2 separate regions of the Homo sapiens genome follow, and region 1 is linked to region 2. The links come from fine-mapping of genetic effects on gene expression. A gene starts in region 2. The other region holds a variant in brackets. All regions are shown on one strand. Distances are from middle to middle. Region 1 overlaps TMEM236 (transmembrane protein 236). Region 2 holds the start of MRC1 (mannose receptor C-type 1).

Evidence for each region. PIP is the estimated chance that this variant, and not a neighbour inherited with it, causes the effect.
Region 1: its variant is the best candidate, but not a certain one, in a credible set for the expression of MRC1 in whole blood (INTERVAL, PIP 0.88).

Annotation. Positions count from the first base shown.
Region 1 is chr10:17,786,625-17,791,020 of GRCh38, reverse strand. The region is part of intron 3 of TMEM236 (transmembrane protein 236); the gene reads right to left. Among named protein-coding and RNA genes, the nearest start is that of MRC1, 21 kb to the left of the region's middle. RefSeq lists an enhancer at 3,044-3,661. The variant C/T (reference allele first, on the strand shown) is at 2,052.
Region 2 is chr10:17,806,579-17,810,974 of GRCh38, reverse strand. MRC1 (mannose receptor C-type 1) reads right to left here and starts at 1,627. Exons shown (of 30, transcript NM_002438.4): 1 at 1,449-1,627. The coding sequence starts at 1,509.

The DNA of each region.
Region 1 (4,396 bases), 20 kb after region 2:
GATTATAGAGAGTCTTATGGTCCAGGATAAAAGTTTTGGATTTTATTCTAAGTTTATTAGGTTGTTGCAAAAGTAGCAACTTAGAGGCGAATGTGAGGCAGTAGAATGAAGACACAGAAGTCAGCAGAGGCAGCTGATGTGCAAAGAGATTGTTACCCAATTCACAGCAGCCAAAACATAATTACTCAGAAACAAATATGGCTAGTCTTAGGGTAATCCCCCAAATCTATTTCTCCCAAGGGGAAAATGGTTAGAGGAATCTAAAAATGAATGATTTAGGCATAACACTGAGAAAAATATATGGAGCAGAAGAAAATTACCAGTCCTTTTAAAATGATTTTTGAAAAAACATTCGGCACACAAAGCAGTGGTAGTCATAATAATTTCAGAGGACAAAGGGAAAAAGGCAATAAATTAAAATACACTTCAAGGTAAATTAGAAACACTGTTATTTATTTCTTTATTCATTTATTTATTTACTTTAGAGACATGGTCTCACTCTGTTGCCACAATCATAGCTCACTGCAGCCTCAAGCTTCTGGGCTCAAGCGATCCTCCTGCCCCAGCCTCCCAACTATCTGGGACTACAGGCTCACTCATTCATCCATTCGTTTATTCCCTGTCTCAAACACTTACAATGTCTAAGATACTGTACTAGGAATTGTGGAAGACGCAACAATCAATAGGTATGATTCTCACCCTTCTAGCAGCTTCCATTCAAATACAGCACTCTGAACTAAACCTTAGAAAGCAGAACTTCAGCTTCATCATTTATTTATTTATTTATTATTTTTGAGACTGCGTCTTTCTCTACCCAGAGTGGAGTGCAGTGGTACAATCCTGGCTCATTGCAGCTTTGATGTCCTGGGCAAACGCGATCCTCCCACCTCAGAATCCCAAGTAGCTGGGACTACAGGCATGCGCTATGACGCCTGGCTCATTTTTTTGTTTTGTTTTGTTCGTTTTTTGTTTTTTTGTTTTATTCTTTTCTTTTTTTGAGACGGAGTCCCGCTCTGTCGCCCAGGCTGGAGTGCCATGGCGCGATCTTGAATCACTGCAAGCTCCGCCTCCCGGGTTCATGCCTTTCTTCTGCCTCAGCCTCCCGAGTAGCTGGGACTACAGGCGCCCGCCCCCACGCCCGGCTAATTTTTTTTTGTATTTTTAGTAGAGATGGGGTTTCACCATGTTAGCCAGGATGGTCTCAATCTCCTGACCTCGGGATCCTCCTCCTAGGCCTCCCAGAGTGCTGCGATTACAGGCGTGAGCCACCGTGCCCGGCCCTGGCTCATTTTTTAATTTTTTGTAGAGATGGAGATCTCACTATGTTGCCCAGGCTGGTCTTGAACACCTGGCCTCAAGCGATCCTTCTGCCTCAGCCTCCCAACGCACTGGAATTACAAGCATGAGCCTCCACACCCAGCTAAACACTGTTATTTTGACATACTCTCACTGAGGTAGGGAAGACAAGTAATATTGCCAAGCAATAAATGATGAAATGGGACATCAACCTCACAGTGAAGGAATTCGTCAGCATCTGTAAAGCACTTAAAAATAGTGTTTGGCATATAGAATGGTCATGTATGTGTTAAATAAATAAAAAGTAGCAATAGTGAAATAATTAATTGTTTTAAATTAATTGGGACAGAATAGAATATATTAGGTTGCAGTAAATAGTAAGAGTGACTATAATTTGTTTAACTTTGGCTATAGTTACACTATAACTCATTATCTGGTATATCAGGGGAGGTCACAAGTTAGAGAAAGACTGTCACACTACAGAGACTAAACAAGATCATGAGTTTCTTATATTTGCCTGTTCACATCACAAAGAAAAATGCTACCCTACAGATATAACCTACACAGGTGAAGGCAGCTTACACCAGCTAACAAGAGTCTCTTGTGTGTATCTCTTCCTAATTCCATTATCAGTGTTCAGTGATACCACCTTGGTAGCTTGAAATCGGTCATAGTGGGAGAATTTACACCACAGACACTGGCAAATGTTACAAATCAGGACTTCCCCACTCCTCAACCCCACTCCACAAAGGCAA[C/T]TGATTAAACACTGACCAGTATACTACTACTGCCTGTGCTCAAAACTGTGTACAAGTTTTCAACAAATAATAATGAATTCAAGACAAATATTCAACCCGTCATCAGCTCTGGAAAAGCCTGTGGGCATGCATTCCCAGCTGTGAAATAGTTGCGGCAACTTTCTTTACAGAAAGCATGAGATTGTTGTCCAGTAAATTCAAAAACCCTAAGATCCCATTTCAGTTCCATGCCACTCATTGTGTAAATCTGACAATAAATAAATGTATCATTTCTGTATCTTATACAATATAAAATGTTAAGAGAATTATTTTGTCAGAGGACACAACTAGAAAGCTAGGTGGTTTAAAATTTTTTAACTTTTTTTTTTTCTTTTTTTTTTTTGTAGAGATGGGGTCTTGCTATGTTACTCAGGCTGGTCTTGAACTCCTGGGCTGAAGCAACCCTCCCACCTCAACCTCCCAAAGTGCTGGGATTACAGGTGTGAGCCACCATGCCCAGCCCACTGGATGGTTTAGAGATCATTTTTCCCTCTACTGCTGCTTTACAGACTTATCTAACACTCGACAAGTGTTGCTAAAATCTTAATATTATCAATTTTTAAATATTCCATTTTTAAATATTGAAAAAATGTTCCAATCTAAAATTCCTAATCTTCAGCTTTTCATTCATATTGTGGTCCTTCTCCCCAAGAGATATATGGTTAGACTAGAAAATGTTATTTAATTTACAATATATTTTATACAAAAGTAATTATATTATTTATGTTACTTATAATGATATATATTTCTAGATATATTTTACTCAAAATATCTAATATATAAATAAATTCATGCTGAATTCTTCATGTTCTGTTATTCTTATCAATGTTCCTGAAACATTTATTTATTTTATAATATATATAAAAATAATATACCATTGAATATGTTTAAAAATATATACATAGTAAGGTAGAATGTCAAGGTGCATATAGTTATCTCATTGCCAAAGAGAAATAATCCTATACTTTGAAATGGTCTGAAATGCCTCTACCCGTATTTCCTCCTTTATTCCAAATACTCAGGAGTTTTAAGTGCTTGGATACAGACATGAGCTAGCAATCCCAGCAGGAGTGGATGACAGAAACTGATGCATAATGGATTAAACCTGAGTCATTGCATTCTTAAGAACCTCCGTCAGCCTGGTTTATGCATATTTACTAGTGTAGTTTAAGAGCCCTGGAGCGTCTAGACCAGGAGCTCCGCAAAAGGCAGCCTCGCCTGTTTCTGCTCAGCTTTGTACCCCCAGCACCAGTGGAGTGCCTGGTATTGATATGGAACAGATCCACCATAAAGATTTGCTGAATAAAAGGTGGGAGGAATTTCTTTTCTGGAATCTATTAGCATGAGGGAGCAATGAGCATTCTGGGGAAAAAACCTGCACTAAGGCAAGGAAGCCAAAGCATGAAAGCTCGGCCCAGCCATTGACTCTGGTTCCCGTAGAGTCAATGGGTAAAAAATGTGGAGCTCTGCACAGAGTCTACCACTCAGATGCCCCTATGGCCCAGTCCTGGAGGGAGCCCCTTAAGCAAGGCCATGACGATTGATTCCACTAACATACCCTGGAAGACATGGGGAGCACCTGGCAGCACAGGCTGGGGACCGGCAACACTAAGGGGACTTAGCTCAACACTAAGAGAGGATGTAATGCGACATCAGGCCCCACAGAGGGTGCCAGCGCTGTCTGGCATGGCACAGTCCACAGTGCTTGGGCAGACAGTTGGCACCAACAGCAGCAGCAGTGCTTCAAAGCATGCCAGAGACCATCCAGGCACCAGTAGCGTCAGGGGTCACCAGGCAGGGGGAAGAAAGGGCATGTATTAGTCCGTTTTCATGCTGCTGATAAAGACCTACCCAAGACTGGGAAGAAAAGGAGGTTTAATTGGACTTACAGTTCCACATGGCTGGGGAGGTCTCACAATCATGGCAGAGGGTGAAAGGCATTTCTTCCATGGCGGCAGCAAGAGAGAATGAAGAAGATGCAAAAGCGGAAACCCCTGATAAACCCATCAGATCTCATAAGGCTTATTCACTATCACGAGAATAGCATGGGAAAGACAGGTATTTATTTACTGTCAGGTTTACCTATGATTCAATTACCTCCCCCTGGGACCCTCCCACAACATGTGAGAATTCTGGGAGATACAATTCAAGTTGAGATTTGGGTGGCGACACAGCCAAACCATATCAGGGCAGATGTGTAATTTCAAGAAGATCATGTTTGTGATCTCATAGGAAGAAGCCCTGAGAACCCTCCAGTCCCCCCACCTATGCACACACATCCAGAAACAGAAGGACTTAAGGTCCCA
Region 2 (4,396 bases):
CTAAAACTACAAAAATCAGCTGGGCATGGTGGTGCATGCCTGTAATCCCAGCTACTTGGGAGGCCGAGGCAGGAGAATCACTCGAACCCAGGAAGTAGAGGTTGCAGTGAGCCAAGATCATGCCACTGCACTGCAGCCTGGGCAACAAAATGAGAATCTGTCTCAAAAATAAAAATAAAATTAATTTCATCTATCCTTTTTATTTGGCCTTTTATGTACTTCTTTTCTGCCACTGATTTTAATAGCTAACACTTATAAGGCACTTACTATGGGTCATACTCTGTTCTAAACATTTCACATATTGTTACTCATTGAATCATCACAAGAACTGATGGGGGCAGGTAATATTATTCTTTCCATTTTATAGACATGGAAACTAAAGCACAAAGAAATAAAGTAGCCTGCCCAAGGTCGCAAAGCTAGTGAGTGAGAGAGACAGGATGTAAACCATACCGCCTTCACTTGTGTTTTTGTAATCACTACCACTCAATACTTATGATTTAACATTTGCGGTACTAAAACACTCTCTTCCTAGGAAACTTCCCACCCGCCTTCACATCAGTGCATAGAGTAGATCGTAGGCACAAACCATTCTCTGCAAGTGTTTGTTGATTTCATAGAATTAAAGGGGGATCAGAAATCAAAAAATCAAATTTGAAATCTCTTCTAAATCATCTCCAAATAGAACCAGGAATGAAAATCCCCCGAGGCACTCCCATCCTGAAGTTTAAGCAACTGAGTATAGAGAAATAGAAAAGACAGACTGGAAAAGGTATTTGAGAATTTGAACAACTCTGGAGCTGTTCCTAATGAGTAATCTCTAATCTCCAGAAAAAGAAGAAAAACAGGAATCGATCTGCTTATGCGGCAGTTTGAATAGTCTAGAATACAGATAAGGATGAACTTTCTAACAATCAAGTGTCTGAATGATTCTGGCAGAAAAAAAAATGAGTATGGAAATTGCTTAGAATCTCTTTTGGGGGGATGATCTGCGATGATACCCTCGGACCTAAGACGCGGGGAGACATCAGGGCTGCCCTCCTTCCAGCCAGAGACACTCAGAAGGTGTTTGTTGGCGGTGAGACAGAAATAGTGTGAATTGAAAACCAGAAAGAGTAAACCACAGAGCAGGAAATTTCTGCACGAAGAAAACAGGGAAGGAACAACGAGCGATGAGAGAAGTCAGGAGGACACTGAAGGTCTGTAGGGTTCCCGGCAGGGCAGCAACCGAGACCTGAGACGCATCCTCCTCCCTCCTCCAACTCCAGGCCTCCCATGCCTGGCCGCCAGGTGAAGGCAGCAGGCTTAGCCGTGGACTGCGTGGTGCAGGGGAACCCCGTTTCCTCCTCACAAAGATGTTGAAAGGAACCCATTCACAGTAACCCAGAAGAGGAAGGTGTGGTTCCGGCCCCCCAGGTCAGAGATCCCCTGCCTCAGAGCAGACTTACCCAGTAGGAGAACAGCACCCGGAATGACAGAGGCAAAAACCAGGAGCAGGGGTAGCCTCATGGCCCAGGGTTTATCCTTTCCTTCTCCTGATGGACAGGAGGGCGGAACTAAGACGCAAAACAACGAGGCCCCCCAACTGCCTCTCCACCTAATCCAAGTTCCCAGAGCTGCCCAGCTGAAAAGAACTACAGAGGAAGCCCTCCCTTTTAAAGGGCTCCTGAATTTAGGGAAAGCCTCTACTGAGGAGACATCCTGTCACATGAGGGTGGCTGGAAAAACAGGAATTCAAAGTAACAACTTTGCTTCGTAAGCTAACTTCTGAGAAGAGCAGACGCAGAGGAAGGGGAGAAAGGGACACGTGTGGGAGAGGAGTGGCGGGGTGGGGAGGAGAGAGGGCGATGGTGATGGTGAGGAGTCAGGAAGGAGAGAAGTGAAACAGCCTGGGAGCTCCCGGCCTGCTCAGATGGGGCTGGGTGGAGATCAAGCTGCAGGCCATTACCTGTGCCGGAAGACGGAGCTTCCCCTGGGAAGCAGCTGAGTCAGGGGTCCCTCAGCAGACAACCTCCACTCTGAAGTGACAGCCACACGGGCCCTGGAAAGGACAGTTTTACGCTGGAAACACTTCAGAGTTGAAGCTCATCCCCTTCAGTTTCCACATTCAGTGCTTAGAGCCTTTCTTTTTTTTCTTGGAAAGTTTCAACAGAAAGTTCCGTGGAGCTTCATTTCCTCCAGGCAGAAGAAAAGTGAAAAGGAGGCTACACCTAAGAGGGAATGTCAGTCAGGCCAGGAAGGAGAAAGTTCTAGAAACCTTTTGCTAGAACGTTCTCTAGAAAGCCAGAAAAAACAGTGGTAAAGGATTTGCAGTAAAGCCTTGCTGCCCAGCCTCAACCATCCCGGTCCTCTTCAAGTTTAAGTGGGTCCCCTTGCTAGAAAAAGAAAATCTGGCCAGGCACAATGGCTCACGCCTGCAATCCCAGCAGTTTGGGAGGCCGAGGCAGTCAGATCACCCGAGGTCAGGAGTTTGAAACCAGCCTGGTCAACATGGCAAAAACCCGTCTCTACTAAAAATACAAAAGTTAGCCGGGTGTGATCATGCACACCTGTAAGCCCAGCTACTCAGGAGGCTGAGGCAACAGAATCGTTTGAACCTGGGAAGTGGAAGTTACAGTGAGTCAGGATCGCACCACTACACTCCAGCCTGGGCGACAGACGCGAAACTCCATCTCAAAAAAAAAAAAGAAAAGAAAAAAAAGAAAAAGAAAATCTGATTGTTTGGTCAAAAGGTATATCTTTATTTAAAGGCAAGTGGAATTCTTTCTTAGAATAAAATATGTTTCTAGATCTTTCATTAAGCAGAAAATAACCCTCCAAACATTTATGTTGTCATTTTTCAAAAGTAGAACAGGAATTTAGAACATTTTAAAGCAGAAACTAACGATTAGCTGGCCAAACCGTTACTAGAGTGTGGAATATGTTAGTAATTCAAAAAGAAGCTACTGGAAACATTGTAATTTTTAAAATTTTTTAAATGAATAGTTTTATCTTCAAACGGAAAGCCTCCACATTCGTTGTCTTTGTGATAAAGTTGAAAAGTTTCCATCCTATTAGAAATGTGATGTAGTTCTCTTACTGATTGTTTTTAACATGTAAATTTGAGATTATCCTGACCGGAGGGAAAAAGATAGTGAAAATGTAGGACAGAGGACCAAAGTTTCTTTGTCACTAAGGCTGTACATGACTGAAAAAAAAAATGATGGTTATAGAACAGAACAGACAAAACAAAAATGTTTCTCAGACATTGTTTCACTGGCTTATGAAAATAATAGTTTAAATGGGTCATTTGTGGCTTTCAAATATAAATAAATCATATACAAAAGTGACTGCCTAATTTACATTTATATATATTTCAGAAGCAAATACATTTAATTGAATTATGTATATAATCACATTCAGGGTTGGTTTGTTTCTTTGAGACAGAGTCTTGCTCTGTCGCCCAGGCTGGAGTGCAGTGGTGCAATCTGGGCTCACTGCAACCTCCACCTCCCGGGTTCAAGCGATTCTCCTACCTCAGCCTCCCAAGTGGCTGGGATTACAGGCGCGTGCCATGATGCCCAGCTATTTTTTGCATTTTTAGTATAGACGGGGTTTCACCATGTTGGCCAGGCTGGTCTCAAACCCCTGACCTCAAGTGATCCGCCCGCCTTGGCCTCTGAAAGTGCTGGGATTACAGACGTGTGCCACCATACCTGGCCCAGGGTTTGTTTTTTAATTACATAAGTGTGTATATCACATTAGTAAAATTAAAAATTAGGATCAGTACTAAAATCTGTGAAGTTTAAACAAAATGCAGCCAACCACCCCACAAAGAATTTACCCCATGACCTTGACCTCGTTGAAACAAAGATTTATCAGGCTACAAGAGGCCACTGGGGCAAAAAATAAATCCAAATCTTGGGGAAGGGATGTCACAGAAGATGGTGGTGTGGGAAACTCCAGGAATTCATCCCTCCATCTAAGCAGCCATCAAATGGACAGGAACTGACTGAAGTAACTGCAGGTGCTCCTCTACTCATGATCAAATTAGGCCCTGTTAAACCCAATGTGAGTTGAAATATGCTAAGTCAAAAATGCACTTAATACACCTGACCTACCAAACATCACGGCTCAGCGTAGCCTACCTTAAACGTGTTGAGAACACTTACATTAGCTTCCAACTGGGCAAAATTGATAGGGACAGGAGGCAGAGAAGTGCTAGGTAGAGAAGGGCAGGATCCCTGGCGAGGGCTCCACCCTCGGACCTGTGCCCACGGACCTAAGTGGGAACAGGCACTCCTGTTTTCATGCGCAAATGTTACATTTCCAAGACCACTATGATTCACCACACCCCGCATCCTGTGCCCATAAAAACCTGAGACCTTAATGGGCATAGACACAAGCGCTAAACATT